Linked DNA regions of Homo sapiens. The protein of the gene in region 2 purifies or fractionates together with the protein of the main gene of each other region. This does not show direct contact. Each region holds a gene or a part of one and is shown on either strand. Other genes may lie near its edges. The genes, in order: SEC63, BIN3, PYGB and FBXO8.

Evidence for each region.
Region 1: the proteins of BIN3 (region 2) and SEC63 purify together in Homo sapiens (affinity purification with mass spectrometry; one large-scale study listed by BioGRID and IntAct). This does not show direct contact.
Region 3: the proteins of BIN3 (region 2) and PYGB purify together in Homo sapiens (affinity purification with mass spectrometry; one large-scale study listed by BioGRID and IntAct). This does not show direct contact.
Region 4: the proteins of BIN3 (region 2) and FBXO8 purify together in Homo sapiens (affinity purification with mass spectrometry; one large-scale study listed by BioGRID and IntAct). This does not show direct contact.

What each region holds. Positions count from the first base shown.
Region 1 is NC_000006.12:107,909,709-107,917,342, reverse strand, and holds part of SEC63 (translocation protein SEC63 homolog), read left to right. Parts: intron 1-3,915; coding exon 3,916-3,977; intron 3,978-4,568; coding exon 4,569-4,627; intron 4,628-5,946; coding exon 5,947-5,997; intron 5,998-7,634. UniProt on the Homo sapiens protein: Mediates cotranslational and post-translational transport of certain precursor polypeptides across endoplasmic reticulum (ER). Proposed to play an auxiliary role in recognition of precursors with short and apolar signal peptides.
Region 2 is NC_000008.11:22,619,815-22,628,152, reverse strand, and holds the end of BIN3 (bridging integrator 3), read left to right. Parts: intron 1-2,740; coding exon of another isoform or gene 2,741-2,852; exon of another isoform or gene 2,853-3,783; intron 3,784-3,789; coding exon 3,790-3,931; intron 3,932-4,103; coding exon 4,104-4,238; intron 4,239-5,455; exon of another isoform or gene 5,456-5,612; intron 5,613-6,584; coding exon 6,585-6,731; 3' UTR 6,732-7,735; downstream 7,736-8,338. UniProt on the Homo sapiens protein: Involved in cytokinesis and septation where it has a role in the localization of F-actin.
Region 3 is NC_000020.11:25,276,744-25,284,377, forward strand, and holds part of PYGB (glycogen phosphorylase, brain form), read left to right. Parts: coding exon 1-14; intron 15-500; coding exon 501-583; intron 584-1,575; coding exon 1,576-1,719; intron 1,720-2,313; coding exon 2,314-2,406; intron 2,407-3,522; coding exon 3,523-3,669; intron 3,670-4,205; coding exon 4,206-4,369; intron 4,370-5,289; coding exon 5,290-5,404; intron 5,405-6,432; coding exon 6,433-6,534; intron 6,535-7,360; coding exon 7,361-7,508; intron 7,509-7,634. UniProt on the Homo sapiens protein: Glycogen phosphorylase that regulates glycogen mobilization. Phosphorylase is an important allosteric enzyme in carbohydrate metabolism. Enzymes from different sources differ in their regulatory mechanisms and in their natural substrates.
Region 4 is NC_000004.12:174,261,270-174,268,903, forward strand, and holds part of FBXO8 (F-box only protein 8), read right to left. Parts: intron 1,832-7,634; 5' UTR 1,824-1,831; coding exon 1,495-1,823; intron 1-1,494. UniProt on the Homo sapiens protein: May promote guanine-nucleotide exchange on an ARF. Promotes the activation of ARF through replacement of GDP with GTP.

The DNA.
Region 1 (7,634 bases), on a different chromosome or scaffold from region 2:
GGTCTCACAGCCTTCAGAGCTGAGCACCCCAAACAGAGATTTACCCACATATCTATTAACAGCAAACCAGTCATTAGCATTGTTTCTATAGATACTAAATTAACTAAAAGTATCCCTTATGGGAAATGAAGGGATGGGCCGAATTAAAGGAATAGGTTGGGCTAGTTAACTGCAGCAGGAGCATGTCCTTAAGGTACAAATCGCTCATGCTGTTGTTTGTGGCTTAAGAATGCCTTTAAGCAGTTTTCTGCTCTGGGTGGGCCAGGTGTTCTTGCCCTCATTCCGGTAAACCCACAACCTTCCAGCGCGTGTGTTAGGGCCATTATGAACATGTTACAGTGCTGCAGAGATTTCGTTTATGGCCAGTCTTGGGGCCAGTTTATGGCCAGATTTTGTGGGGGCTTGCTCCCAACAGAGGCCATTTTAGGGTTAGTAATTTGCCCAATTTGAATCTTGTGTGTCTCAGGGAATAGGGAGGCATGAGGAGTGGGAGAGAGATGGGGGAATGGCCAGTGAGTGGAGCATTTGAAACACATATGTATTAAGTTCTTTTTCTTCTGCAGGTGCAGTTTGTGTGCCAGCCCCGCAATGATAATAGAAATGTCAAAGATCACATATCACTATAACAGATAAAATAATAGTGAAAACATTAGATATATTGTGAGACTTACCAAAATGTGAGAGAGGGACATGAAGTGAGCACATGCTGTTGGAAAAATGGCACTGATAGAATTGCTTGATGCAGGGTTAACACAAATGGCAGAAAAACACGATTATCTGCAAAGTGCAATAAGAAGTTTGCTTGCAATAGCATACTAAGTTATAATAGCAAATTGTGAAAGTGGCATGTAAATGACAGAAGTTTGGGAGATATCACCTTACTTATTTTTGTACTTAGTAGAGGATATTGACTATGTCTCTTCTCTCCCCTTGTTTTGTGGCTTGCTGTTTATCTATGTGAATTACTATATGATTCTGTAATAAAGCAGTGCCATTAGGACTTTTGAAGTGTGTACTACATTTTCTGCGTAGCAGTTGTCCTTGAGGTTACTGTCTTTCAGTTAGTGTCTCCTTCAAGCATTTACTCTCTTTTCACAAGTATTGGTATGCCTTGATTGCTGTCTTCAGGTAATTTAAAAAGACATTTCCAGAGGAAGTCAGGTAGCCAAGACTATTTAATTAGTAGTTTTTATTTTAGTGCTTTGGTGAAATCCCCCCACCCTATCCCCCCAGTCTTTAGGTATTTTAACATTTTCAAGTTTATAATTTTGTTCTCAGATTTCTGGAAATCTGACTATGATGTGTGGTCACTATTCTGAAAAATGCACAAGAATAATATAAGGTGTTTAGTTTTAACTCAGTTATGTGGTTAAACTGTAGAATATTTTATGTATAAAATGTCTTAAATAGTTGACGTTCTGTAAGACCAATGAAAAAGTGAAGTGATCGTGGGACCTAGAACTTTGAGATTATGTAACTTGCATAAATATAACTATATTAGATAAAGGTATATATTTTACCAACTATAAGTTCTAAGTGCTTGAGTTGAAGTTCCTATCTCATGAATAACTCTAGCAGCCTTGGAATGCAGTTATATAGGCTTTGATGTGCAAAGTTTTTTAGAACTTGCTTAGGTTATTTGAGATCATTTTTCTCTCCTTAGTTGCCTATTATAATAAACCAGCTGGGTCATTTCATTTTTTTTTTAATCAGATTTTCACTCTTTCCTTTAGGAGTTATACCATTGAATTCTCTGGTTCATTATCTAGATAGAATTGAGATTTTGCTCTCAGATGTAAAACCTGTCTTTAAAGCTATTGTATAGCAAGTGGGCAGCGTTGTTGTCACCTTAAAGATATGTTAATTTTTATAAAAGCATATGGTTTTTACAGATGAGCATGTAACTTATAATAACTGTGCATAGCCAACTCATGGTCACTTGTTTACAGTTTAGTGAAAGCATTCTCTAGATCAAGATTTATGATCTGGAGTCCCTGAAATTGTATACAAAATTTATGTGTCTTTGTAATGTGCATTTTTCCCAGGGCAAAGGGGTCATAGATTTCCTTAGATTCATAAGAGAATCTATAATCGTCCTCTGTTACCCCCAAAAAATTAAGGGATATAATCATGTTTAGGAAACTACACTCACTGAATTTTCAAAAATTCTGTTAGCATCATTGATCTTGTTTAAGCTTGTTAAATGTGAATTATACTAAAATTACGCAGCTTTTAAGTACTTTAACTCTTAGAAGTGGTATTATACTGAAATGCTAAGTAACAAAAATTCATTTGCTTCTTAAACTGACTTTAAGTTGCTGACTTATTTTATTAGATTGAATGTTCAACATGGTTCCCATCACACAGCAGTTGTAGAAGTCAGTTTAATGAGTGAGTTAATGTAATCGTAACTCGTAGGTCTGTGTAGGTTGCAAAATCAGAGTGTCTCTGATGTGAGCTATGCTTTATTTGGCAAAATCTGGGAGTATTGTATAGAGGACAGAGCAGTTTGTTTTGCATAATCACAAAGGCAGAAGGGGACAGAGATGGTTATTTTGGGCAGAAGGATCCAATTAGAAGACAATAGTGAAAGAAACAAGCTAAAACTCTGAGTTGGGTGGACAGTTGTACAGGGGATCTAGGACAAAATTTTTGAGAAACATCCCTCAATTTTGAAAAGAAAATCTTAGCACTATTCCTTATTATCTTGCAACCTGTCTAGTAATGCTTTTTATTGGCTCCTGTATTTTTCTGTGGCCTTTCATCAAATAGTGTAAGTGGAGTTACAATTAAATAAGGATTAAAGACATCAAGGCACCTGTTTGCATAAATGACTAAATTGATAAATTTAAAAATATTTTCAAGTCATCGAAAACTAATGAATGTCCTTTTTGCTATTTTATAAAGGTATTTCTGCATTGCCTATCTCAGATTGGAGTTTTGTTAAATAGAAACTACATTGCCTCTTAAGTTTTGAGAAGTAGAAGTACGGTTAAAATTAGATTTGACCATATGGAAGATCTTTTACCAGTTGGTCTCCAAGAATGTCTTCCTTATTATGTTATTGGTCATTTTTGAGCGTGTGTGTTGGTGGGGTGGTTTCTGCCTTATATTCCTTAACTACATTGTATATTTTTGTAAGGAATTGGGAATTCATTTTAATGCTTTTTAACATCTTCACTGGGAACTGGAATAAAGTTATTCTTGACTCTGTACCTTGAGCCATTGTCAAAGTCAGGGGTTACATTTTAGGTATCTAAAAATTACTCTTTAACTTTCACATTCCCTGGGTTAGGAAGCTGCTGTTCAGGAGAAATTTTCCTGGTTCTTCTGGCAATTGGCTTAGGAGAAAATTGTGATCTTAGCACAGTGCAAATTACCTTACCCACAGCAATGGAGTTTTACATGTGGTGGTCATCTGTTTCTTTCAGAATGTGGTGCTATTGTTTTGTGGGGAAGCTACCATTATGAATTAAATTTATGTTTTTAAAAAATGTGTATTTATCATTACTAATGTATAAACATGCTCATTGAAGAAATTTTGGAAAATATATGAGAGTATAAGGGGAAAAAAATCGCCTACAATTCTCCCTGCCTTCTTAGAAAATGTAGTTGCCTTTAAAGTTTGATCTGGTTGAACTGAGAACCATCTGGTTGAACATGAGAACTGGTTAAGCTTGAGAACCATGGGCCAACCAGGAATTAGTATCAAGACGCAATAGTTAGCATTTTCTGTTAATGCGCATTTCTTGCTCCTCCCTTTCCCTTTCTCCTGATTTCAGAGAAACTTTTCTTGATTCATGGAATCAGTATCTTCTAAGAAATGAGTTGGTTGGCTAATGGAGTTTGTCTATATGAGTACTTGTTTTTCAGATGTGGCTTTCTAATTTTGCAACTTTGTTCTTTTGATGCTAGTTTAACGGATGAAGAGTCCCGGAAAAATTGGGAAGAATTTGGAAATCCAGATGGGCCTCAAGGTGTGGTAAATGATGATTTTAAAATATTGGCGATATGGTATATATTATAAAAATGTTAACCAGATTAAAGGAATAATATTATTTTCTTACTAAACTTATACTCACATGGAGTTTAACATAGATAAATTGAGCTCTCATTAATTTTTGCTTTATTTTTCTTTCTAAAGACTAGTTTGAAAGATATAATTTAAGTTGATCCATAGAGAAGAATAATCACTATCATTTCCAATTACTAGTTGATAAAAATTTGGAGGAAAAAATCTTATTTTTCTTTACAGACTTCACATTTTCTCATGTGTTCATAGTGTTTATGTAAACTCAGGACATATAAAATAATTTATATTTTCTTGAGAGAAGGAATTTGTACTTACAGGGTTTCTTTTTCCTTGAAAAATTTGAAGTTTCAGATATAAACTATATCCCTGAACTTTTGTGTAATGGGGGCCTACTAATAAGATAATCTTTCTCAAAGTTTGTTTTTGTGTTGTGGGGGAGAGTTCTGGGATATATTATAGATCCCAAATATATTTAATGTATTTATTAAAACTGAAAGTAGAGATTCTTCAGAAACTGATATTTTTTCTATTTCAGCCACAAGCTTTGGAATTGCCCTGCCAGCTTGGATAGTTGACCAGAAAAACTCAATTCTGGTGAGTGCATTTAAATAAGATACATTATGATGTATTAGACAAAATTTTTGTTATGTACAATCTGTCTTGGTAATACAAGAAGAACTATTACAAAGAAAATACTGGTGTGCCATTCATTCATTCATTCATTTGAGACAGAGTCTTGCTCTATTGCCCAGGCAGGAGAGCAGTGGCGTGATCTCGGCTCACTGCAACCTCTGCCTCCTGGGTTCAAGCGATTCTCCTGCCTCAGCCCCCGCTGAGTAGCTGGGATTACAGGTACCCACCACCATGCCTGGCTAATTTTTGCATTTTTAGTAGAGATGGGGTTTTGCCATGCTGGCCAGGCTGGTCTCGAACTCTCAAACTCCTGACCTCAAGTTATCTGCCTGCCTCAGCCTCCCACCATGTTGGGATTACAAGCATGAGCACTATGCCTAATTTTAATTTACAATAAATTGAATTGTATATATTCCATATGGTATTTCAGGAGGAGGTAGGATATCAGACTTCAATCACTGCAACCCTAAAATGTCAAGAATTATCTTACTCAGGGATACATTCCTACTTCAACTTTCTTGAAAATAATTGTCTAAAGGCTGTCTTTGAGGCAATAAAAACAAAATCCACATAGTCTGTAATTTGTTTTGAAAATGGCTATTAAGTTATTATCTGGCAGATTAAAATTGGTTACCTTGAGGGGGTATACAGTTGCTGCATAAGCTTGTTTGTCATGCTTCTGGTTAGTAGGAATAGTCGAGAAGGAATAAGTTACTACCAGATTTAGGATCAAGTAATAGGAGAAAAATCAGTAGGTAAAAATTGCTAGTCAGCATTATGAAGTGACTCCTTGATATTTAGCTAAAGGAACCTTTGGCCAGGGGCTTCTTATCTCATTTGTTCCCAGAGCACTAACTACTGAGAGGTTGTGGATATATAAATACCTGCCTGACTGGAAGAGAAATGTAATTTACAAAACTGTTTTGCTGGTGTTAATCTGTATTGTGTCAGTAAATAAAAAATTAAAAGGTAATTTATTATAGTGGATATGAACATAGGCTCTAGAGCTGAACTACTTGGGTTCAAATCCTGGCTGTGCAATTTGCTAGCTGTGTCCTAGGACAAGTTATGTAACCCATGTGTACTGCAGGTTTTCTACCTACAAAAGGAGGGTAATAATGGTACCTTCCTCTTGGAGTTTGAGAATAAGGATTAAACAAGATAATACATGAGGAATCCTTTTAATAGTGGCTCCCCCATTGTAAGCCTCAAAATAAATTCATGGATGTTGTTTTAATTTACCTGACGAAGGCCATAATTCTTTTTCTCTTCAATTTTAGGTTTTACTTGTATATGGATTGGCATTTATGGTTATCCTTCCAGTTGTTGTGGTAAGTTTTAGCTTTTTAAGTTAATGTTTTTTTTGGAAAGGAGATTGACATGTTTTGGAGTCTCCCTATAACATTTTAAATGTATGTTAGAATATAACCCATTGATCCTTGAATTTAAGAGTCTTGCCACTGAAGGTGAGGTGGGAGGATCGCTTGAGCCTAGGTGTTTGAGGTTGCGGTGAGCCATGACCCCACCTCTGCACTCCAGCCTGGGCCACAGAGTGAGACCCCAACTGAAAAAAAAATTATATAACTATACTTTTAATGGTCTTCTAAATGTGACATTACTTGAGCATGATGTGTATATCCTCCCAATTCAAAAATTACCCACAACTGACCGGGCATGGTGGCTCACTCCTGTAATCCCAGCACATTGGGAGGCTGAGGTGGGCAGATCAATTTAGGGCAGGAGTTTGAGACCAACATGGTGAAACCCTGTCTTTACTAAAAATACAAAATTAGTCAGACATGCTGGTTTGAACCCAGGAGGCAGAGGTTGCAATGAGCCGAGATTGTGCCACTACACTCCAGCCTGGGTGACAGAGCGAGACTCTGTCTCAAAGAAAAAAACAAAAATCACAAAAGTTACAACTGAGTTAACACAGATACATATATACATATGTATACATATGTGTGTATGTATATATGTATGACATATGTATATGTGTACATATGCATGACAGATGTGTATAAATGTATGACATGTGTATATATGCATGACACGTGCATATATGTATGACACGTGTGTGTATGACATACATGTGTATGACACGTGTATATGTATGACATGCATATATGTATATATGTATGACATGCATATATGTATATATATGTTTTAAATACAGGGAAACTGTCCATTTTAATTTTATTTTTGTTATTTATTTATTTTTGAGACAAGGTCTTGCTGTATAGTAAGGTGGTGCAAACATGGCTCTCTGCAGCCTCTACCTCCTGGGTTCAAGCAAATCCTCCCACCTCAGCCTCCCAAGTAGCTAAGACCACAAGTGTGTACCACCATGCCCTGCTAATTTTTAAATTTTTTTGTAGAGATGGGGTCTTGCCACGTTGCCCAGGCTGGTCTTAAACTCCTGGGCTCAAACGATTATCCTGCCTCGGCCTCTCAAAGTACTAGGCTTACAGGTGTGAACCACCATGCCTGGCTGACACAGATATATTTAAAGTTTCAAATGAAAGTCTTCCCGCACTACCACCCTCAACTTCATTTATTTAGGAATCATTGGGAAGTTGGGTGTTTTTTCTTTAAAATCTTTTTCTATGAATTTATGTACACACATTCATTTTAAAAAAAACCTTTAATGAGATTTTACTGTATGTGTGCATTATTCTGTTTTTTTGCTTAATATAATGGGGATGCAACATATAGAAAAGCCTCATTTTTTAAAACAGCTGTATAATACTATAATACGGAGATACCATACAATTTGATATTCACCATTTGTTACTTTTGTGACTTGTGTCCTTTCTGATCCTGGAGTTCCTTTTAGTCACATAGTGAGTCTAATAATTAAGTTGTTTGTTTTGCTTTCTTCAAAGGATTGTTGCAAGAATCCAATCATATTAAGTAATATGAATGAAAGTGTCATGTCAACTTGTAAAATTATGCCTACATTTGTTTA
Region 2 (8,338 bases):
GGCACAGACCAAGGCATGGCAGGCATTCCCCACCAGTGCTGGCTGCGCCCAGCCCACCTCCCAGCCGGCCTCGCTCACCTTCCCTCTCCTTCTCCTCTTCGCCCCTCCCATCCCCAGGGGAGTGAGTTTGATATTGAGCCTTAGGACAGACAAGAATTGGGCAGTGATCATGGGTAATGCTTTGATCACTGGCCTGGGCCCAGCCCGGCCCCCTTCTTTGAGGATAAATGTAAAACAGACTTCAGGAGCTTACAGTCTAGTGGAAAGCCACAGCGTGTTCTCAGGTCAGCGGCCAGGTGTGGCAGCTGCCAGCGTGGTGCAGGACCATGGAGCGGGGCATGCTCGGTGGGCTGTCTGACCTGCCCCCACCTGGCCTCGGAGGCTGTTTCCTCACATGTGGAAAGAGAAAGCCAAACTGACTTCTCATAATGGGACAGTCAGCACCTAGGAGTGGGAGAGGAGGTTTTGGTGGGCTGAGGTGGGCAGGGAGAGAGGAGGGGTGAAGTGCGCTGGAACAGCAGAGTGGAGCCTGGGTCCTGGCTTCACGCCTGGGGACAGGCTCCCCCAGTGTGGTTGGGTAGAGTCAGCAGGGCCTCTGTGGGGTCCCAGGGACATATCTGGGAGGGGCTGGCACAGGCGCCCAGCCTGTGCACGTCTCCACCTCCCCTGCCAGCAGCCTGAGCCCTGACCTGAGATCCCACACAGCACCGTGGCACATCCACTGTCCACCCCGGGGCTTTGGCAAAGTCTGTTCTGTTGCTAAGAAGTAGAAAACGGGGAGATGGGGCCTCAAAGGGTCAGTGAGTGACCAGGGCAGATGTGACAGAGTCCTGGTCCACTACTCTTCAGCCACCTTGGCACAAGCTGCGCCCTGCCCTGACTGATGTGAGTTCCCACTGAATGTAGAAAGGTGTGACACTTGTCCCTACCCCTAGGGAATCCCAATCCCAGGACCCAACCTCCCCCCACCGTGGTTGTAATTTATCAGCAATCACCTCCAGTGGCCTGAGCAGGCAGAGCCTCTTGGTGGCTAAGGGGTGCTGTCATGGGAAACGGAGGTTTTCATGGTGAAGACATGCTCTTCCCACTGGGGCAGGCGGCCTGCAGAGGCAGGTGGTCTTGGTTCCAGGGGGCTGGCAGGAGCCCATGCAGCCAGGTGGCCACCTGGAGACACCACCACGCCATCCCCCGAGGAGCTCTGTAACCCGGCCTCCCTCACCCCCGCTCGGCACTCCGCTGTAGTCAGCGCTCCTGGTGGCTCTGACTCTGGCACAGGAAATAATAAGCCCCAGCCGACAGCTGTGGGAAGGGGGCTATGAGAGTGCCTCAGGGGATGTTGGGGGGTCAGGCTGCTGGAGCAACGAGCATAGGGCTCCTCCCATCCTGCACCGTGGAAGCCACCTTGCGCACACACGGCTTCACGCTGTGATGCCCTCCTTCCTGAGGATGTGAGCTCAGGGTGGTGGGATTGGGGCCAGGGCCAGAGAGCTCTCCACCTGCTGCCTCCTGCCTGCCTCATCCTTGCCCTGTCCCAGCGCCTGCACCTACCCGGCAGCTCCCAGGCACCCACAAGGCCCAGGCACTGGGACCATCCAAGCAGCAGGTGGCTTCTAACACAAGGATCAGGGCGAGGACCAGGGTAGCTGCCGGTGGTCCCTTGGCCATTTGGGGCTGAGGGAGAGGTGGCCTGGTAGCCTCTCAGGCCCAGCTGCACCTGCTGCCTGAACACGTGCCTCTCAGCTGCCCAGGAAGGGGGCAGGGCTCCCCAGCAGCTGCAGCTCCACCACGCAGCCGCCCTGGGCAAAGCATCAAGTCTAGCTCCTCCCAGCAGTCTCACCCCAGCCCACGCCATGGGCGACTATGCATCCTGGTGGTGTCTGCTTCCCACCCTCAGTTCCGTAGTGCTGAGGGGCCCGCGTTCTCTGTGCACAGTCCTGGGAGGCCCATGGCTTCTGCCCGGCAAGTCGGTCAGATGCTGGTTTGATTACTATGTCTAAGGGCACGGGTGAGCATTCAGGGTGCTTTGGTGGCTTCACCCACTTAGCACCTTGTTAAGACAGGGAGCCCCTTATGGACACTGTTGAGGTAGAGGATTCCTGTCTTGGGGATAAGCCCTTTGTTTCATCAAAATCTACTCCCTGGGTCTGACTTAGTTTGGGGGCATTTAATGCTTTGGTAAAGTTAATATCCTCTTACTCCCTGGCAAAACTGTTCATTACTCTTACCTCAAATGTACACTTGATTTGCTGAGGCTTTTTAAAAACAGGCCGGCCACGGTGGCTTACGCCTGTAATCCCAGCACTTTGGGAGGCTGAGGCGGGTGGATTACTCAAGGTCAGGAGTTCAAGACCAGCCTGGCCAACATGGTGAAACCCCGTCTCCACTAAAAATACGAAAATTAGCTGGGCGTAGTGGCACACGTCTGTAATCCTAGCTCTTCGGGAGGCTGAGGCATGAGAATTGCTGGAACCCAGGAGGTGGAGGCTGCAGTGAGCAGAGATCATACCACTGTACTCCAGCCTGGGTGAGAGAGCAAGACTCTGTCTCAAAACCAAATTCCTGGTCATGTCCTTTGAGAGGCACATCTGGGAGTCCTGCTCTGTGTGGTAGCTGAGCTCCTGGAACCTGACAGTGAGTCTGCCAGCATCCTCTCAACTCTGAGTGCCTATGATCCCAGTCTCAGTAACTGCTTCCTGCCCTCGTCTTTCCTCCTCTCTGGGTTCCTCATAAAAATGTCCAGGAGGAACCAACTCTTCTGGTCCTGGGTCACCTCCGAATGGCCACAGAGTCATGAGCTCCCTGGGCTGCGCAGCCTGATCCTGGACACTGCAGGGCTCTGGCTTGCCTGGTAGACGCCCCCTGCCATTGCACCGAGGGCCAGCCCTCCAGCAGCAGCAGCGAGAGCCTCAGGAGAGCACTGCTCCTGGTCACTAGAGGACACATGATCCACAAAGACGAGGCCGGTGTGGACCTGCAGCGTTGCATCGTCCACTGCTGCTCTCTCTGAGGGCCACTCCTCTGAGTCTCCCACGCGGTCCCTTCTAGTCACAGTGGAGGTCCTCAGGGCATTTTCCTGAAGCAGCTGGTTGGAACTTTGGCGGTTCCAATGGCAGAGCCAGAGGATTTCTGCTGCTTTCATGTTGCCAAGGAGCCCTTGAAGGAGAAGGTGCCCTGGGGCAGGGGTGAGTTTAGATTTCAGTTCTGCCACCTGCCAGTGGCACTGTGAGGGCTGGAAAGGGTGCCAGACAGAGAATGTGGACACCTGTGTTCTCTTCTAGACCTTCTCTGCCTCATCGTGACTTTGGATGAGTCATAGGTCATCTCTCTCTGTCCTCAGTTTCCCTCCTTTTTAAAAGTGAGGTGTTGGCCAGATGACTTCAAGGCACCTTCCCCACCATCCCCTAGTCCGTTGTGTGATAAAGCTCACAGGAGGTGGGGGTCAGGGCACCCTTCATTCCTGGGCCACCCTGTGCCACCCAGCTCCCTGGACCTGGCCCACAACCCCACCTCCTCTCATCTGCCCTCACCCCATGACATTGTCCACGTTCGCACAAGCTCCAGGGGACAGGGCCTCATCTGTCTTGTTCACAGTGAACTCCCCAAGACCTAGAGCAGGGTCTGGCGCTTGGTAGGTGCTCAGGGCACATTTTTGGACAAGTGAGTGCTGGCCAGGACGCCCCTCCAAGAGCGGACCCATCTCCAGCCAGGCCACCCCTCCAAGAGCAGACCCATCTCCAGCCAGGCCACCCCTTCAAGAACGGGCCCATCTCCAGCCAGCTTGTCCCACAGGTTCGGCAGTGTCTTCCCGAGCCTCAACATGGCTGTGAAGAGGCGGGAACAGGCCTTGCAGGACTACAGGAGGCTGCAGGCCAAGGTGGAGAAGTATGAGGAAAAGGAGAAGACGGGGCCAGTGCTGGCCAAGCTCCACCAGGTACCAGGGGAGACAGGTGGGCAGGGGCTAGACAGGTGGGCCATCGTGGTCACCTGTGGTAAGTCCCTCCCCTCACCTGGGGGCACCAAGACACCAGACGTCCCCACCCCACCCATCCCGTATCCGGCACCCAGCAGTGAGAGAGTTTTGACACCCAGGTCTTGTTCCCTAGGCACGAGAGGAGCTGCGGCCTGTGCGGGAGGACTTTGAAGCCAAGAACAGGCAGCTGCTGGAGGAGATGCCGCGCTTCTACGGCAGCCGCCTCGACTACTTCCAGCCCAGCTTTGAGTCCCTCATCCGAGCTCAGGTGAGGCCGCCAGGTGCTCTTCCCCTGGGCTTGGTATACACAGCTCATGCCACTCCCTGTCACCCACACTGGAAGGGTGGCTTAGCCATTCTCCGTAAAGACAGGGCACCCACCCCAGGCAAAGCCCTGAAGGAATTCATTCCATTACCAGAGTCCCAGGCTCAGCGACTTGGGGGACCTGTCTGCTGTTAGACTCCTCACATTGCTCTCTGGTAAATCCCATACCAGGAATGGCCGAGGTTCCCTTTTGGTCCAGCAGTTCCGCCATGGATCTCTCTACATTTCACTATAAGTAGCTCCTCTGCCCCGCACCCTCAAGTGGGCGGTTTCTTGGCCCAGGGTGGTGCCGAGAAGAAAGGGATCTGGAGAATGGAGGCCTTTTCTGAGGACTCAGCTCCCCTCCCCTGCCTACCGTGAGCCAGTCTTTTTAGCAGGAAACGGCGGGAGTCCTGCCTTGGAACCACTAAGGAAGGGGGCTCCAGAGCCCTGGGGAGAGCCACAATCAGGGCTGCTCCTAGGGCCCTGGGGTGGAAAGGCAGGCCTGGAGGCATGGGGGCGCCACTGGGGGTCAGACACGGGCCAGGCCCCAGCGTCTCCTTCCACTCGGGGACGGGAGGACACGGAGTGGCATGCTCCTCACCCTCCTCCATCTTCAAGCCTTTAGGAAGGATTGTTCCCCCAACTGGCAAAATAGAAAAGGGTGGGCACCCATGCCAGAAGCGGGTCCCTTCCACACAGGACCCTGCTGATGGCTTGCGCTCAGCAACAGCCTTAGTACCCCAACACCCGTGGCACCCTGCCAGGTCCCTGTGGCTCTGCCCCTCCTGGCCCGGGTGGTCTGAGCGTGGCTGGGCGTCTGGCGCCCTCCAGTGGCCATTTCCTGCAGGCCCGTAGTCGCAGCCGTGAAGCCTGGCCAGTGCACACCCACCCTGCCGGGCCAAAGTCAGGGTGGCCACCTGCCCCAGTCAGGACACCTGAGCAGGGTTCATGCCGGGGCGGGACCTTGTCAGTGACCCACGTACTTGGTCCTGTGCCATCTTTAGGGGGCAGTGAGACCTAGAGCCTTCTGCAGGAGGAGGTAGGGACTTCTCCTGACACTTGCTCCTGCAGCGAGGGCTCCCTCCAGCCGCCCCATTGGGTTCACGGGAGACCTGGGCCTGCCTCTTCCTCACTGTCACCTGGGTGCTGCCCTGCACCCTCCCTCCTGTTGCTCACAGGAGGAAGCCACAGGGTGCCAGGCTCCCGCGTGTCCAGGTTGGAGCAGATGGGAGGCCAGGGATGCCCTTTAACCAGGCAGCATTGCTGGGGGCTGTTGACTGCCTCTTGGGCCCCAGCCTCCCCCTCGCCCGCCCGGCTGCCATTAGTCATGGAGAAGTGAGTATTCCCAGTGACTCAGCGCACAGTGGCTTGGGCAGGGAGTGGGGGCAGGGTGGGCCGCCGCCAGCCCAGAGGTGACAGCAGTGTGTTGAGACCAGCTCACTTTAGCACCCCCTCGGCCGGCGGAAATCTCGCCTCAGGAGTATCAGCCGTGGGTCCCCGCCCCACCTGGCATTTCCCACAAGGTCCCCTTAGTGTCTAGAGCTCCTCCTCATGTCTAGAGTGAAACGTGGAAGCTTTCAGGAAACTGCATGCTTTCATTGGGTCATGAGGTAGAAACTGAGGCAGAAGTGGCCCCTATTGTCTGTGGAAAAGCCCCTGGTCCTCAGCCATCTGGGAGAATTGACGGGCTTCCCCATTCCTCCACCTGCCCCACCCTCAACCCTGTGTCCCCTCCCACACCATTTCTGGTGCCTCCCTAGAGGGACCCTGGCAGTGAACCTGGCCTCTGAGCTGTCCCCCTGGCCACGCAGCTTGGGCCATGAGCAAGGGTGGGATGCAAGTTGGGAGGGAACAGAAGGCTAGACGGGCATCCCCTTTCTTGCCTGTGCCTCTAAAGCTGGCTTAGGGCTTTGGGAGCCATCAGCCTACCATGCTGTCTTTCTGCCATGGACAAAAGCCTTGGGTTCTCCCCTAGCTTACAAAAAGCAGTAAAACTCCAGTCATGGTGCCCATCATTCCACAGTCGCCCTAGGAGGCCCATGCCTTCCTGCACCTGCTGCTGGGGGAACCAGGAGCCCGAAGCAGGGGCGCCTCCACCTCCAGCCACTGAGGCCCTGTTGCTCCCCGGCTCCTTTTGGTTCAGTCTCAGCTAGAGCCCTTCCGTGCCCTGCATATCCCCAAAGGCACGCTGCTGCACAGCTCCAGATGGGTAAGGGCAGGGGGTAGCAGAGAAGTGTGAGCCTCTGGCCCCCTGAAGCACACGGTTCCCTGGAGCCAGCACGTGCCAACCCCTGTCGCCTCCCCCAGGTTGTGTACTACTCGGAAATGCACAAGATCTTTGGAGACCTGTCCCATCAGCTTGACCAGCCAGGCCACTCCGATGAGCAGCGGGAGCGGGAGAACGAGGCCAAACTCAGTGAGCTCCGGGCCCTCTCCATTGTGGCCGATGACTGAATCCCCGTCACTCTTGGAGGACTCCTGTGACGTGGTCAGCCTCATTCATCCTTGCCCTTCTCAGGGCTAGCTGCTCCTCTCACAGGCTGGGGACAGAGGTGGCCCTGGTTCACTTGCCGGCCCTTTGCAATGAATGACTCTTCCTGAGCCTGGCACCAGGAGCCCTAGGCAGGCCGCCGTCTCCCCACTCACAGCCCCAGCAGGTAAGCAGTGTAGACAAACCCTTGGGGCTTTTTTATTTGGAGAACCGTCCAGCATGCATCCTGGCCCACGGCCTGAGCAAGCTGCAGCCCTTCTGAGGCCATGGGCTTCGTTGGCTAAGTTGGGGGTCTTAGCCTTGCATGCGTTGTGGGCATCAAATCTACCTCCAAAAGACCCATCCTGGGGAGCCCTCTGGCCCCTCGTTGCCTTTTCACTTCAAAACCTCTTTTTTCTGGGAGAGGCCCTGAACCCTGTGCGGGAGAGCTGGTCCTCCAGCCCTGGCAGGCCCTCAGCCAGCTTCCCAGCAAGACAAAGGGCACCCTTGTGGCTTTGGGACCTAAGTGGTTGGGGTTCCCGAGGTCACTGAGGACTGGTACCTCGGGAACGCAAGCTGTCAGTGGAACTGTCCCACAAGAATTCACAGGTCTCAAAGCAGGAACAGTGGGTTTGTGTCTCACCTGAGTATCTGGAATTTTATTTTTTCAAGTAAAATTTTCAATGAAACGTCCACATAGTATTGTGCTGTAACTTAGGCGAGCAGAGGAAACCCCTTCCTGGGCCTGCTGCCCTCCACGGAGCAGCAGCACCCTCCAGCAGGCAGCCCAGCATGCCAGGGGTGTGTGCGCACCTCCCCGGCCCTGGCCCACCTTCTGGAGCGAACTGCACCGTGGTCCAGCAGAGGCGCTGGGTGGGAGGGCACGCGGGCAAGCCTAGGAGAGTAGGAAGAGCTGTGGAGGACACACTCTCAGTTTGTTTTTGACTTTGGTTTATTTAAAAAACAAGCCAAAAAAAAAAAAAAAAAACCCCAACTTTATATACAAAGTCAAACTGAAACCACGGATTATGGAAAGAGGCAAGAATTATGGGTAACAGGGGAGAAGGCTGGGCCAGAGCCAATACCACATTCTGAACACAGGAGCCACGGGAAAGAGGTGCTGGTTTCTTCTGGCAAGACCGGGGTGACTGGAACGCAGTGTTCTACTGGCAAACCCAGCCCAACACTGAGCTCTTTCTAGCATGGACTCCATTCCCGTGATGGCCAAGGGAGACCCTTCCCCCAGAAGCCTGTGTCCGGAACCTAGCAGAGCCTGTGCCATCCGGAGGAGGGGGCTGCTTAGCCCCAGCCAGGCTCCATGTCTTGCTCTTCAGTTCCGTTCACTGACATCAGACCTTGTCCCACACTCGAAAAGCCTTTTTCTCCCCTGTCTTATTCTAAACTGGAAGAGGACAGGAGAAAGTCAGCACAAGACTAAAAGGGCCCCAGGAGAAATACCAAGGTTGAGGGCAAAATGACATTCTAGGGGTGCAAAAGATGTTGTATTTAGTTGTTAAGTGGAACCGGGGTTCCTCACACATCCATCCCACATAGCACAGCCCCCAGCCTGATGGCCTGCCGTCCCCTAGAG
Region 3 (7,634 bases), on a different chromosome or scaffold from region 2:
CAAGCTGCAGGACTGTACGTTCCGTGGTTCTTGGCACCCTTGTGTCCATGTGGGTGGCTGGTCCCAGACACCCTCGCCCACAGCCTTTACCGCGCCCTGTGGCTCACTGTCCTGGAGGCCGCGCGGCCCTCCTCTAGGGTGTCCCTGCGTCCCAGTGAAGAGCGAGGCTGGTGCAGCTTACCTGTGTGTGGGGCCTGCCCGGGAAGGGCCTACAGGCAGAGCGACCAAGACACCTGGGCCCTGGGCACCCAGGGTCACCTTGTGCAGATCATGTGCCCCTGGGGAGGAGTGAGGGGGATGGAGTTGTGTGCGGTACATAGGGGAGCTGCAGGAGGGATCACGTTTACCTCCAGGGATGGGGGTGAGGGGAAGTAATGCAGCGGCTGGGGGAGTCCTGTGCTCGAGCGAGTTTCCTTGGCCTTTGCAAGTAGGCCCCTGAGCGGTTGCAGTGCTGGTGCCAGGAGGCATGTGTGTGTTGACCCCGCTCCATTTCTTCTTAGTCAACGTGGGAGACTACATCGAGGCGGTCCTGGACCGGAACTTGGCTGAGAACATCTCCAGGGTCCTGTATCCAAATGATAACGTGAGTAGCTGGCCTGGGCACTCTTGCTCAGGCCGTATCGCTTTCTGGCATAGAGAGGTGGGCTGGCTGGCCGGGCTCCCCAGTGGGGCCTGCTGTTGGCCTTGGCAAGCAGCCACCTGGTGGCCCTCTCGCCTTAGGTGCACACACGATGCCCTTGGGGAGGAGAGGGTGCACTGTCCTCCATAAAGCCCAAGCGGCTCTTCGTGTGCCTCTTGGCAGCTCTGTGGTCCTCTCTCCGAGGACACTCTCTGCCACCTTCCCCTCTTATCCACTCCCCTCATAAACACACAGCCGCTCCTTGGGGCCAGCTGGAGCCCGTCAGCCCTCCAGTCTGTGTGCTGTTCTAGCCTGCAGTGCCACTTCCCCAAGCAGGTGATCTGTCTGTCCAGGGGACCGTAGCGCCTACTTGGCATTGATGCCTGGGGACATTTGAAAGGTCCTTGGCACATGCCCTTCCCATACTAGGTGATGGTGTCGCAGCCATGTTCCCCACTGCCACCTGCATTTAGTGCCCAGTGGCTTTCTTTTTGTTGTTGTTGCCTGACAAGTCCTTAGAAGATGCCCTAGTGGGCAGAGCATGTTTAAAAGTGAGCTTTTTGTTTTATGAAAGTAACCTGTGCACACAGGAGCAAAGGCCTGGGTGCCGGAAGGCTCATCAAAGAGTGCACTCCCCTGTCCCCATGAGACTGTTGGCAGACCCCAAGCCCCAGGTACAGAATGTTCCAGAAGGCCTGTGCTTGGACAGTGCAGCTCCTGAGCAGCGCTGGCACTGTACTTCTGACGGATGGACACTGTGTCCCGGGGTGTGTCCCACAGGCGGGGTTACCTTCCTCAGTGACCTGAGGGCACACAGGCAGGCCCCAGTGTCAGGCAGCTGGGCTGGGCTCCTCTCGGCCTTCTGCCTGCACCTTTGAGCCAGGTCGCTGACCTGGGCTTCCTGGGGGAGGAGAATGGCCCAGCCTGCACCCTCCAGCTTGCTCTGCTGTGTGCAGTTCTTTGAGGGGAAGGAGCTGCGGCTGAAGCAGGAGTACTTCGTGGTGGCCGCCACGCTCCAGGACATCATCCGCCGCTTCAAGTCGTCCAAGTTCGGCTGCCGGGACCCTGTGAGAACCTGTTTCGAGACGTTCCCAGACAAGGTGCATGGTGGCCCTGGGAGGGATCTCAGTGCCAGGGGCTGGGCGCCTTCAGGCTCTTGAGGTTGCTTTCTCATGTCCCAAAAGGGGCTAGAGTGGAATGGTACATGCCCCTTGTCTTGGGGTCTCGTCATTCTGGGCCAGGATCCCACCTGGGCCCTCCCTTCCAGAACAAGGGCCACCGGCCTTGTTAGGAGTCAGGTCAGCAAGGGACATGGTGAAAGGCTCCTGTGCAAAGTCAGATGTGCTGGGCAGGCTAAATGGGGTTATTCCAAACAAAGCCCTATAGTTCCAGTGAGAGAGCCCCCAGCCCCGGTGGCCACGGCTCCTCCCCTCCGGCTGCAGCACATACCCGCAGCAGAGCACACAGCTGTAGGGCACTCACCAGCAGGCACATCGGGCACAGCGCACACCTGCCACAGTGCGAGCCCGACTGTCCTCCCTGCTCCCTCCACAGAACCCCTCCCTGTTCTCCAGGCTTCTCGGGGGTGGGGTGGGCTGGGCTGGCTCCTTCACTTGGGGAGCTTCGTATGCCAACAACCGTGGGTGCCCACGTGGGATGAAATGACTGAATGGCACCCCTTGTGCGACCTTCAGGTGGCCATCCAGCTGAACGACACCCACCCCGCCCTCTCCATCCCTGAGCTCATGCGGATCCTGGTGGACGTGGAGAAGGTGGACTGGGACAAGGTGAGCATGGAGGAAAAGGGCGGCACCTCCCCAGAGCCTGGAGCCCGTGCAGACCAGGGCTACAAGGAGCTGAGCTGGGGGGCCTCTTCCCTGGCCTTGGGAGAGCTGTGTGGTCATCATGCCCAGGAGAGACGCGAGCTGTGGGAGGGGTCTGGTTCCAGGAGACGGAGGTTCCGGGGGCCAGAGTATGGGGTCAGGGCGCGGGGGAGATGATAAGGATAGGGCTGTGACACTTCTCAGGGTTTCCCGTTGGTGCATTCTCATCTTGAAATTTGGTGACAGCTCCCCAAAGCGTTAAGTGTTTAGAGGTCTGTGCTCTATTCATGCACCTGCCCTCGCGATTCAGTGTATTTTGGACTTAAATATGTTTGTGTGGTAGGATTTTCTTAATCTAACCGTTACCAAATCAACATGTGGAACCATAAAACAGGCCAATGTGGTGACTCACACCCGTAATCCTAGTGCTTCGGGAAGCCAAGGCAGGAGGGTTGCTTGAGGCCGGAAGTTAGAGACCAGCCTGGGCAATACAGCAAGACCCCACCTCTAAAAAAAAAGCCAGGTGTGGCAGCACACACCCAGAAAAATAAAACCAAAAGAAACCATAAAACGATTTTTTTTAACTCCGTTTTGTAGAAACCCAAGCCCCTCTCTGGTCTTGGGGTGTGTGCACTCCAGGTGAGGCTGTACCTGTTGTGGGTACCCCAGTTCTGGCCAGCATAGGGCAGGTCTGTGTAGTAACCAGTGTCCTCCCCACCATGTCTGGCCACTTTAGTGGAAATAAATAGAAAACTGCTCAATGGTCTGTCCGTTTACCAGTGACGGCAGAGTGTGAAGGTGACTCCAGGTAGCAGGCGATTGTGTCTTATTTGTGTGTGTGTCACGCACTGGACCATAATGTCACACTTCAGTGGGTTGCGTCAGCAGAGTGAGGGCTCTGGGCTGCGTGTCAGGCTTTCAGAGGGCTCCAGATCCACCTTGGAGAGCAGAGGGGACGGTGGCCCTTCCTGGGGTACCCAGCATCTGCCTGGGATCCTGGACGCTCACCCTGCCTAGGCAACTGGCCAGAGAGCTGCTTGTTTCTAAACAAACACATGGGAACATTCTCTAATGGCCTAGGCCTGGGAAATCACGAAGAAGACCTGTGCATACACCAACCACACTGTGCTGCCTGAGGCCTTGGAGCGCTGGCCCGTGTCCATGTTTGAGAAGCTGCTGCCGCGGCACCTGGAGATAATCTATGCCATCAACCAGCGGCACCTGGACGTGAGTGTGGGCCCAGCTGGCCGTGTAGGGTGGCGGCTACACCCATGCCAACGGCCCCCCACCTGGCCTGGGAGAGGAGGTGCTTTGCTCCTTGAACGAGGCACCCTCTGTTCAGCAGAGGATGCTTGGGGCTGGGGGCTGTCCCTTGGCAGAGCTATTGGCTGATCCCCACGCCTGGCCCACAGCCTCAGGTTCCTCTTTGTAAATTAAATTGCACGTCCTCTCCCTCAGACCCATCTTCCTCAGACAGCAGCCCTGTGGGTCCCTGGGCCGGGCTGGGCCCTTTCCTGGGCTGGGGAGTTGGGTGAGCGAGAGCCTCCTCCTCAAGCTGGGCCTGGGCTCTTGTGAGATGCCTTGGAGGTGCCTGCTGGGTCTGGGAGCACTTGAGGGAGGTCTGGCTGTCACAGCCCCAGAACTTCCCTGGAGGCAGCAGAGCTTCCCATGGGTGGTCATGGAGTGTCCCCTGGTCATGGGGAGTGCTGGGTCTCCGTGGGGCCTCCTGTGCCCACCCACCTGCCTCTGTGTTTTGGCACCAGCACGTGGCCGCGCTGTTTCCCGGCGATGTGGACCGCCTGCGCAGGATGTCTGTGATCGAGGAGGGGGACTGCAAGCGGATCAACATGGCCCACCTGTGTGTGATTGGGTCCCATGCTGTCAATGGTGTGGCGAGGATCCACTCGGAGATCGTGAAACAGTCGGTGTGAGTGGGGCGCTTGCCCGAGCGGGGCCAGCTCTGTCTGACACCCAGGCCTGCGTCTAGGACCATCCACCAAACACATGGACCCAGCTATATAGCATACAACCTGTGCCACTAGGCCCCTGCCTCCATAGGAATGACAGAGCTGCCCAGAACACCCTGTCAGGGTCACGCCTTGTTGTGCGTTCACCGACCAGCACACGGGGGCCTCTGGAGGGCTCTGGCTCTGCGGGCAACGGGGAGACGGCTTTGTCTCCTGTTGCTCTCCTGCGCCCCTGCCTTCCTGGGGGTCCAGTCGGAGGCTCTGCACCACTGGTCCACCTGCCGCTGGCAGGGCTTGGACAGGGCTTGAAGGTGGGATTCTTAGGTCAGATCTTGTTCTTGCCCCTCTTAGGTGGGGCGTGATCTAGGAATTACTCCCACTCTTTCACGTAGCATGTGCTGAGCACCTACTGTGAGTACTGAGCAGGCAGCAGCCGGCGGGAGCGGAGGCTGTGCCCGGGGCTGGGCTGCAGGCTCTGTGCGTGGCGCCCGCAGCAAGCTTCGTGTCGGGCCCCTCCCCAGTAGCTATGAGGAAACCGAGCGCAGCTTCTCAAGCCCTGAAGTCCTGCGGTCTCGGCTGTCATGACTTGGACACCTGTTTCCGCACGGACCGCTCTGGAGAATGGCCAGGCTCTAATGCCTGCAAGGTTGTGGTTGGGCAAACCGCACAGCCAGCCACAGATGCCCCGGGGTGCAGGTGCTGCCTTCGTATGGCTCCCAGAGCCTGCAGCTGCCGCGGTCACTCTGTTCTCCTTAGAAAACAGAACAGAACCACTGAGCTTGAGGGCTCCTGGGACCTCCTTAAAAGGACTTTAAGGTCTGTTGCTCACCTGGTGCAGGGCACAGCATTTGTGACAGTTCCCTGTTCTCTGTGTTTGCAGCTTTAAGGATTTTTATGAACTGGAGCCAGAGAAGTTCCAGAATAAGACCAATGGCATCACCCCCCGCCGGTGGCTGCTGCTGTGCAACCCGGGGCTGGCCGATACCATCGTGGAGGTGAGTCCCGGGCCCCACCCGTGCCTGTGGAGATGCCTGGGCTGAGAACCGCGGGCCATGTCATCAGCCCCTGCTGAGCGGTTGCTGAGTAGGCAGGAGTCTGTCCCTCACGTGTTGACCTGCAGGCTTCTGGACATGAGGGCTGAGCCCCTGAACATGGGCGCTGAGCTGGGCAGTCACCCATTGGGCCTGGCGGGTCCTGTGTGCGAGTTCAGAAGCCGAGCTTTAGGGAGGGCTGGGGTGTGGCTGAGTGCAGCCACGGGGCCACTGCAAAAGAGTCAAGAGGCAGCTGACTGCCAGCTAGGCTGGGCACCTATTTCCTGTTTGTATGTTGGCTCCTATGCAAGCTCCCTGAGGAAATGAGTGCTGAGGTGTCAGGCCCTGCGCTACAGGCAAGGACCAGCCGCTGGGAGGGTGGGACCGCCCACCTGGGGCTATGGTCAGGGAAGCCTTCCCAGGAAAGCTGAGGTCTGAAGAGGGAATGAAGAGAGAGTGAGCAGTGCTCTGGGGCAAACTGGTTCAATGCCCTGTGCTGGGGGACGGGCCCCTGGGACCTGGAAAGCAGCGTGGCTCCTGTGCAGTCTGAGATGGGCCTGGGTACAGTGAGGAGAGGTGGCCGAGTGTTTGCAGGCAGCACCTGGGTGAGGTGCTGGCTTTGAGGGGACCGCCTGCTTCAGGCAGGGAAGGTGCTGGTGGAGGGCAGCGGGAGGATGGCTTTGGGTTTTGGGTGGTGATGGGATGTTCAATGTCAGAGAACCCTGGGATCGGTGGCTGAGGGAGGGTCGTGTGTTTCCTGTGGACGTTTGAACTGGTGGGACTGGGCCATCTCGCAGAGCCCTCTCAGAAGAGGAAGGAGGGGCTGCTGGGGTAACCCTGTGGCCTGAGAGGTGGGATGCCCGGAGGGGCCGGACAAGCAGATCCCAGGGGAAAGCAGGGGCGTGGGCAACAATGGGAGGAGGGCAGGTGGCTAGGGGGCCCAGCCTCAGGAGGCTGAGGCCCACAGTGAGCGGAACCTTTACGTTCTCCAGAAAATTGGGGAGGAGTTCCTGACTGACCTGAGCCAGCTGAAGAAGCTGCTGCCGCTGGTCAGTGACGAGGTGTTCATCAGGGACGTGGCCAAGGTCAAACAGGTAGGCATGGCCCTGGCCCCAGCCCCGACCCCAGCCCTCCCACAACCAGGCAGGTAGGCCCTGGCCCTAGCCCTCCTACAGGCCCAGCACAGGTCCTGGGGTACCCACTGGGGCTTTAGTGGGGACTCAGAACAGGACTGAGGGTGAGGCTGTTAGGGTTGCCTGAGGTCTCTCCACCCCACTCAGCCTTTCAGATGAGGGCCCCGAGGAGGACAGGTCACATGGCAGATAGGTGAGTGCAGACCCCAGGCCAGCCCTGCCCGTGCCTCGACCCTCTGCCACAGGTCAGTTCTGTATGGAAGCCTCTAGAAGCCGATTCCAGCGTGGTACCCTCTTTGCCCCTGGAGAGCTGTGCAGGTGCACGAGCTGTCTGCACCGGCAGCAGCCTCTCGGCTAGACCAGGGCCAGTCACGGCAGCCTTCAAACCTCAGCGGGCTGGAGGCCCATCTACACAGCCTGTCGAGCTTGGCCTCCTCATAGAGGCCAGAACTAGTTCTCCTTGTAGTCCTTTCAGCCGTCCCGCTCCCGCGCTGCTCCGCCGCCTGCACGCCTGGCTCTGCAGTGTCTTCTGCTTGGCTCCAGGCGTGCTCCTGGGCCGGCTCCTCACTTATCCCCTACTCTTGGTGTGGACCCACCTTCAGCATCCCCCTCTCCCCTTTTCCCATGAGAAGACCCCTGGTGCAATCTCTGCCCCTCAGCTCCAGCCTGTATACCCCTGCCCCCTCCCTGCGGCACTCTTCACAGGGCACTTGAAGCAGGAAGCCGCAGGGTCAGTGGATGGAGTCCTGGTGAAGTCTCCAGCCATCTTTCCCTTTCACCCTCCCAGGAGAACAAGCTCAAGTTCTCGGCCTTCCTGGAGAAGGAGTACAAGGTGAAGATCAACCCCTCCTCCATGTTCGATGTGCATGTGAAGAGGATCCACGAGTACAAGCGGCAGCTGCTCAACTGCCTGCACGTCGTCACCCTGTACAATCGTGAGTGCCGGCATCACCTGCATGACCGCGCTGTGGGGCCCAAGGCTTGCCCTTGCCCGCCAGCTGTGCACAGACCCTGGGCCTCTGTCATGGTGGGGGCTGTGTGTGTATAGGCGTGTGCATGTG
Region 4 (7,634 bases), on a different chromosome or scaffold from region 2:
AAATTAAAACTAAGCCAGCCTTTAATTTCAAATAGAAGCAATTTATTATTAAGGAAAAAATCCAAGTATTATAAAAATAGGCATAATTATGGCAAATATTTCTTTCACAAATGAAAAATTCAGATTTAAACCCCAAATGAAGAATACATTCTGGTTGACTTCAGGTAAGGCTAGAAATTAAACTTTTAAAAAAAGTTCAAACAAACAGAAATTAAGTTAGTAAGGAATACTAAAATGTAGAAAAGAGATTAGAAAGAATGAGCCAGTTTAAAAGTACTTTCATTTCCTCTTCTATTCATGAGTAAAAAATTAATAACATTTATTTTAAAGACTCCTCATTAACAGAATTTCCTCTCACGTAGTACTTTCACTATGTCAAACAAATGAGTAAAAGAATAACAAGATATGATATTGATGATTTTTATCTATTTAGAGGTTGAGAAATGACCTATATAACTTGTACTAGAACTGTGTGACATCAGAAAGCCTAATTTAGGAATGTCATTACTGAAAATATATTTTGACTAAAGTTTGTAATTTATTAAGTCTCTCAATTAGATTTCTAGTTTGAAATTATAGGAAGTCTTAAAAAGATATTTGTTTTTAGTTATAGTCTATATTTTTATAAAGACCTATTTCAAGATAATAAGACAAATAAACTTTGGTAAAGGATGCTAGAAGGTCTGAGATCCAATGATTCCATGTTTGGTAATATTTTTAGGCCAAAAAATCATGTACCTATACTTTTTGTTAAAGTATATGATGCTATTTAAGGAGTAACTTAGGTTCAATAAAACAGATTCTATTCCAGCAAATGTTCTTAGATTTGTGGTTTTAATTCAGACTAGTACAATGTGGAAATTTATGTAATCTAAGTTCAGCAAGTAAATAAAAACAACTATTTGTCCCCTTGCTTTCTAATATTTGCCTACTTCATTGAAATGCTGGTTAGAAAAAAAAAGTAGATAAAATTTTCACCAGTTAAATTTTATTCTAACAAGCACCTTTGAAGAAATATAGAATTGAGTAAAAATGTAAGGCTCTATATGAAGAAAATTAAAAACAGTAACATTTGAGGACTATTCATTGATTTCGAAGTCTGCCTATTATTCAGATGGCAGGTATCCTATGGGAAGCACAAACTACACAGCATGTGAACACTCCAACTTTTAAATTAGAAATTCTCACTCCACAACTTTGCGGTATTTTCAGAATAAAGTGAGAGTTTCTGACTTATAATCAACTGACAGAGCCTGATTGGTAACCTCTCTTCTAACTGTAAAGTTATTATTCTATTTTCTATTGTCCTCCTTTTCACAAGATCAAATTTGACTGTGATGCTAACTGTATATTTTTCCAGGTTTTAATAAAGAGCATCTCAAAGTACAAGCCCAAGTTTAAAGAAAATATTTTGTAATATACATTATAAAAAGAACATTGAAGCATGATTATGTTTAGAGATACCTGAATTCAACTTTGGTGGGTTTAACTTACCCTTGCCAGAGAAGTTCATCATTCGCAAGGTCCTGCCAAACACATGAAGCCAAGCAAAGGTCAGTTGCATTCAGGTAGGACAAGATGGTAAAGCTTAGCTCAGGAGGCAACATTTCCAAATTAATGAATCCTTCCTGTTCTTTCGATTTCCTTGCCTTCAAAAGATGATATATGTCAATGCCTCCTTGGACTTGTTTACGATGATTGGTGTTAGAAATGTTGCTCGCAGCCATTCTCCTGCTCTGCTCTCTGGTGAGGTAGCCTTGCTCACTGTAGCCTTCTTGTTGCAGCTGCTGGTTTCTGACCACTCTCCACAACCCTTGACCCATCTGCAAGCCTGGGAAAAAGCCAGAATGTAATAAGGGTGACATTTAAAAAGTAACCCATTTTTCCCAGTGGTATAACAAATCTGACATGAAGCATTCATTTATCAGAATTAAAACTTCTCATTAAAACCTACTAAAACCAGAAGTATATTACTAAGAATAGCTGGAAAATTATAAGTGCAAATTTTGATAGACAAAGTTTCAGAATTACTTGGTTCGATCATCACCTTTATCCCAGTTTGCTAACTACTTCTAAAGTCCATATGTGACATAATCATTTTTCACGTGGTAAGATTTAAAAGTTACTGATGTCCTTAATACTCTTACAAATTATAATTATGTGGACTTATGGGCCAGTATTAAATACAGCTCTGATCAGAGCACGGACTTTAGTTAAAAGGCCTCCAGACCCTGCTTTTTATCACAATTCAGTCTAAGCTAAGCTAGCTCCTTTTAACCAAACTCCCAGATGCGTAACAGCTGGGAAACAGGCTTTTAGTTTAATTCTTGCCAGTCTACACTTACATTGTAGACTGTAATAAAATGTAACATAGGCCCTGAAGTCTAATTCAGAAACCTTGTAAATTAGACACCTAGAACTCCATGATAAATAGCTCGGTAACAGTAGACTATTTAGTTTTGTTGTTGCCTTAAATTAAAAATTGTAATTTAGAGAAATTTTCTAATTCTTCTCCACAAATCCCTATGGATTCTTCAGAAGTACCTGGGAAAAGACACCAGAAGAAAGGTGTGCTCTAGTCTCCCCACTACCATCTGACCTCCCACCAGAGCATTCTACATTTGTCTGTCACATATATTGACTTCCTCATGTACAAATGTATTAGAAAATTCCTAGAGCTAGATTTGGCATTGCCTTTAAATAGCTTTTCTGGAGCAAATAAAGTCATTCAGAACAACTAAATCGGAGTTCCTAATGAATACAAATAATTACTTTCATGATCTCTTTTTCAAACAAAATACTTTTATCAACTCGAGTTGACTACTAATACCTGTGTGTTTCAAAAACTTGGAAAAAATACTAACTTTCCCATAAAATCATTAAAATAGTCAAATAATTTTTATAGCATGACCCGAACTTAAAATATAATGTGGCTTCAATTAACTGTTTACAATAAGTACTAACAAAAACAAAAGCAAAAACCCCAAAAGACAAAAAACAAACCAACAACAGTGACTAGATATCTTTTAATCAGAAATAATTTGAAAATTGAGTGGAACTTCAAAGAATGTCAAAGATTGTTGTTGATTAAAACAGAAAAAATAGTGGGCAGACTAGAGCATGCCTTCTTCTGGTGTCTTTTCCCAGGTACTTCTGAAGAATCCATAGGGATTTTATTTTAGTATTTAAAAAGGTATAATCCACGCATTTATTTACTAAACCATTGGCTATTATTTGGGTAATGGCCACTAAATTCGGTCATTTGTTGATTAAAACAGAAAAAATAGTCCAGGATAATTTTTAACTCTTCCCCCACCTTATATTGCACTGCTTGGAATCCCAGCAGCTTAAGCTATACAGGTATGGTGGGGAGGTACAAAGAGAAGAAACATATTAATAATTTTAAAATGTAGGCACATTTGTTTTTGAAAAGAAGGCACAAAAGATAACCCTTCTCTCCCTACTACACACGACACCATGGTATTTTTTCCTAAATCAGTGGTTAAGCTATACAAATAAAATTCTTAAAAAAAAAAAAACAGAATATCGGGAAAATAAAAAGACAAGCCACGGACCAGGAGAAAATCTTTGCAAAACACATATATGATAAAAAGACTGTGCATCCAAAATATGTGAAGAACTCTTAAACCTCAGCAGTAAGAAAATAATCCACTTTAAAAATGAGCAAAAGATCTGAATAGACGCCTCACCAAAGAAAATACACAAATGGCAAATAAGCACATGAAAAGATGCTCAACATCATATGTCGTGAGGGAACTGAAAATAACATAACTATGAGATACTACTACACACCCATTAAAAGAGTATATCCGAAACAGTGACAATACCAAATGCTGGCAAGAATGTAGGAATGCAAAATGATACAACCACTTTGGAAGACAGGTAGTTTCTTTAAAAATTAAACATACTTTGTATGATTCAGCATTAGCTGAATCATTTACCTAAATAAAAGCTTTTTATTTAGGTATTTACCTAATTAAAAGCTTTTTATTTAGGTATTTACCTAATTAAAAGCTTTTTATTTAGGTATTTACCTAATTAAAAGCTTTTTATTTAGGTATTTACCTAATTAAAAGCTTATGTCCACACAAAAACCTACACGTGAATGTTTAAAGCAGTTTTGGTAATTAATTTTCAAATCCTGTAAGCAACTACGATGTACTTCATTATGCGAATGTATAAATAAGCTGTGGTACAGTATATCTATACAATGGGAAATTATTTAGCACTAAAAAGAAATGAGCTATCAAGCAATGAAAAGACATGGAGGAACTTTAAGTGCCTATTATTAATGTTAAGTAAAAGAAGCAAATCTAAAAAAGTTCTTTACTGTATGATTCTAATTATAAGACATTCTGGAAAAGGCAAAACTATGGAGACAGTAGAAATGATCAACGTACAAAAAATAGAGAATGTCAACAAAAAATTATAAGTACAAGTTTTATATTTGTTTAAATGTACCATGTCACATTACAACATTAAGTACAACTTAATTTTGACACAAATTGAACATTTTAAGTCTACTAATCATAAAGAAAAGTATTTTATTTTCACCATTGCTATTCCTCTATTTAACTTAGCAAGAAAATATCTAGAAATCACATTAATTGCTGAGCTCACCTAGCACAGCTGTTATTTTAAATAATTAAATTTATTCTCTTTTGTTTTTGTACCACTAAAGGTAAATTATCAAACATGGTAACTGCAGTATCTGAAGTCTCAATATTTAAAACATTTATAACAATTTCAGTCTATTTTCCTACAGAATCTTTCTAGTGGCATATGGTTAAGCAGCTGTTGCTACTCTTAGGCCTGTTGCTAGGGAACAAAGAATCAGGGTGATTTCCCTAGGCTCCGGACTTTAATGGGGATCACTTAAATTGAACACACTGGATAATATGATTCAGAAAGCATCCGGCAGGTAGAAAGAGGTAAAGCCAGCAGCTGGTTCTTTAAAAAATAATAATAATAATAATGGGGAGGTTGGAGGGTTGAGGCTCATGTATACATAGTTCAGACAAAGAAAACTGCAAAATTATACCTTATTTTCTGTATTCCTACTGCTAAACAATACTGAAAATTGTCCCCTTGGGACTTTCGTTTCCCTTTAAAGCAGTTCTTGATCCTGGGTAAAAACACAGTAATGATAAAGCACTCTGAGAAAGAGTAACATCATGAGTTTAGCATTTGGAGAAAGAAAAGGGAGTCTGTAGCGTTCTGCCCCCATTCCCTATCTTCCTTAGCATAATAGGGATGTGAAACATGGGTGTAACTGTCAGAAAAGCTTTAAAACTCTCAAAATGACGTGACATCCATTGTATAAGTTGTAAAGCAAGTCATGGAGGGAGTATAGTGGTATGGGTTTTGAAGTCAGACAGACCTGGGTTTAAATCCTGACTTTATTAGTTCTTACTTACAGGACCCTGGGAAAGTTACTTGACTACTCTGAGCTTTAGTTTCTTCATGTACAATGCAAAAAATAATAATGATAAAAATGTCTATAGCTCAAAAAGCTATTGTGTTAAGTAAGATAATGTACATAAAGTTAATTTCATGGCTAACAGTTAACTAACAGTCAATACGTTAGATATTACTTTGACAAGCATATTTTTATCAAGTGAAAATAAGCACTTTCATAAAGCTTATTTAATGATACTTAAACTGTTCTGATGTCCTGCCTGTTGAATAAGCTTATTTGTTCATGTTGCTACTTGCACAGCTTTGTAGGGCCTCTACACACAATTCACCTCCTTTAGTTATTTCATATTGTGACCATGTTTTTATGTTGTTTCTTCTTGTAAATCCAATTCTTTTATATCAATGACCCAGCAACAACAACAAAAAACTCTAGAAAACAAAAAAAGGCTGTGTTGTCTTTCACAGAAAATTTTAAAACTCAGCATGCCTGAGGATGGTGCCAATAGCAGTTCCATGAAATAGGTCTTTGTGTTATTGTTAATAATCTGTCAAGATGTGGCTAGGTATGGTGACTCATGTCTGTAATCCCAGCACTTTTCGAGAAGCTGAGGCAGGAGGACTGCTTGAGACCAAGAGTTCAAGACCAGACTGGGCAACATAGACCCCGTTTCAACAAAATACAAAAAAAGTTAGCTAGGTGCGATGGTGCATACCTGTAGTCCTATCCACTCAGGAGTCTGAGGCAGGAAGATCACTTGAGCTCAGGAGTTTGAGGTTATAGTGAGCTATGATCACACCACTGCACTCCAGCCTGAGTGACAGAGTGAGACCTTGCCTCTAAAAAAAATTAAAATTAAAAATTAAAAGAAAATAAACTGTCAACACTAGCTCTAAAAGAGATGTAGAATATGATGCAGTTTCATGCGGGGTTCGTCCATGATTTCAAACTCTTGAAAATAGTGTTTAGACTGAACCAATTAAAACTTAATTTCAAAGTATAAAGTTTTCAGATTTGTGTTAAAAGTTTTAATAATATCTTGGTATAAAGATTTTAAAACTGAAACATAATATTATAAAAGATATATTACTGTCCTGTCACTTGCAGCAATTGTTAGGTAAAATAAAATTCAGCTGCAATGTGGAATCACTGAATATGCAAAAAGTTTCAAATTCAAAAAAAATTCAACACAAAATAAGTTTTTGTATTTGAAATCACTAGTTTTGGTGTAAATATGGATTTTGTGATGAAACTACAGCTTTATTTGTTCACTCAAAATAGGTGGAGAAAATAGATATTTATTTCTTTGAAAAAATATTTACTCTTCTAAGAGCATAGTCTATGTTAGTCTATCTCATACAGAAATAAAAGAAACACGGTTGCTTCTTGTTATTCATGGCAATTATGTTCTTTAAAGTTTCTGCAAACACTGAATTAGCAATACTGAACCATTGTTCCTAGGGAATTACAGGGTTAGGTTACTGTAAGCCTCTATTCACAATATTTTCATTAACTGATCAATACATAACCTTACTGTATGTGTGTTTCTGCTGAAAGACATTTAATACATATTGCTAATTCATTAACTGTGAACTCATGGCCAACCGCACTATAACTCAGGCTTGAATGAGGCTTATCTAACATGTATTTTATCCATAAGGCACAACACTTAGGAAAACTAGATAACGCTTCTGCACTAGGCTTGGGGGCCATTTTTTGTTTTGTTTTGTTTTGTTTTGTTTTTGAGATGGAGTCTCGCTGTGTCGCCCAAGCTGGAGTGCAGTGGCGCGATCTCGGCTCACTGCAAGTTCCGCCTCCCTCCCAGTTTCTCGCCATTCTCCTGACTCAGCCTCCAGAGTGCTGGGACTACAGGCGCCTGCTACCACGCCCGGCTAATTTTTTGTATTTTTTAGTAGAGACGGGGTTTCACCGTGTTAGCCAGGATGGTCTCCATCTCCTGACCTCGTGATCCGCCCGCCTTGGCCTCCCAAAGTGCTGGGATTACAGGCGTGAGCCACCGCGCCCGGCCGGGGGCCGTTTTAAACACTAAAATCACCAAGAAAAAGCATGTGGGAAATGTGGCATTAAATAAGCCACAAAAAGGACACTTGTTTATAATGACAGCTAAGATAAGAAGGCAGAGCCTTGCCTTCAACTTCAGCTGCGAATGTGCACCTTGAACAACAGTTTTTTCAGC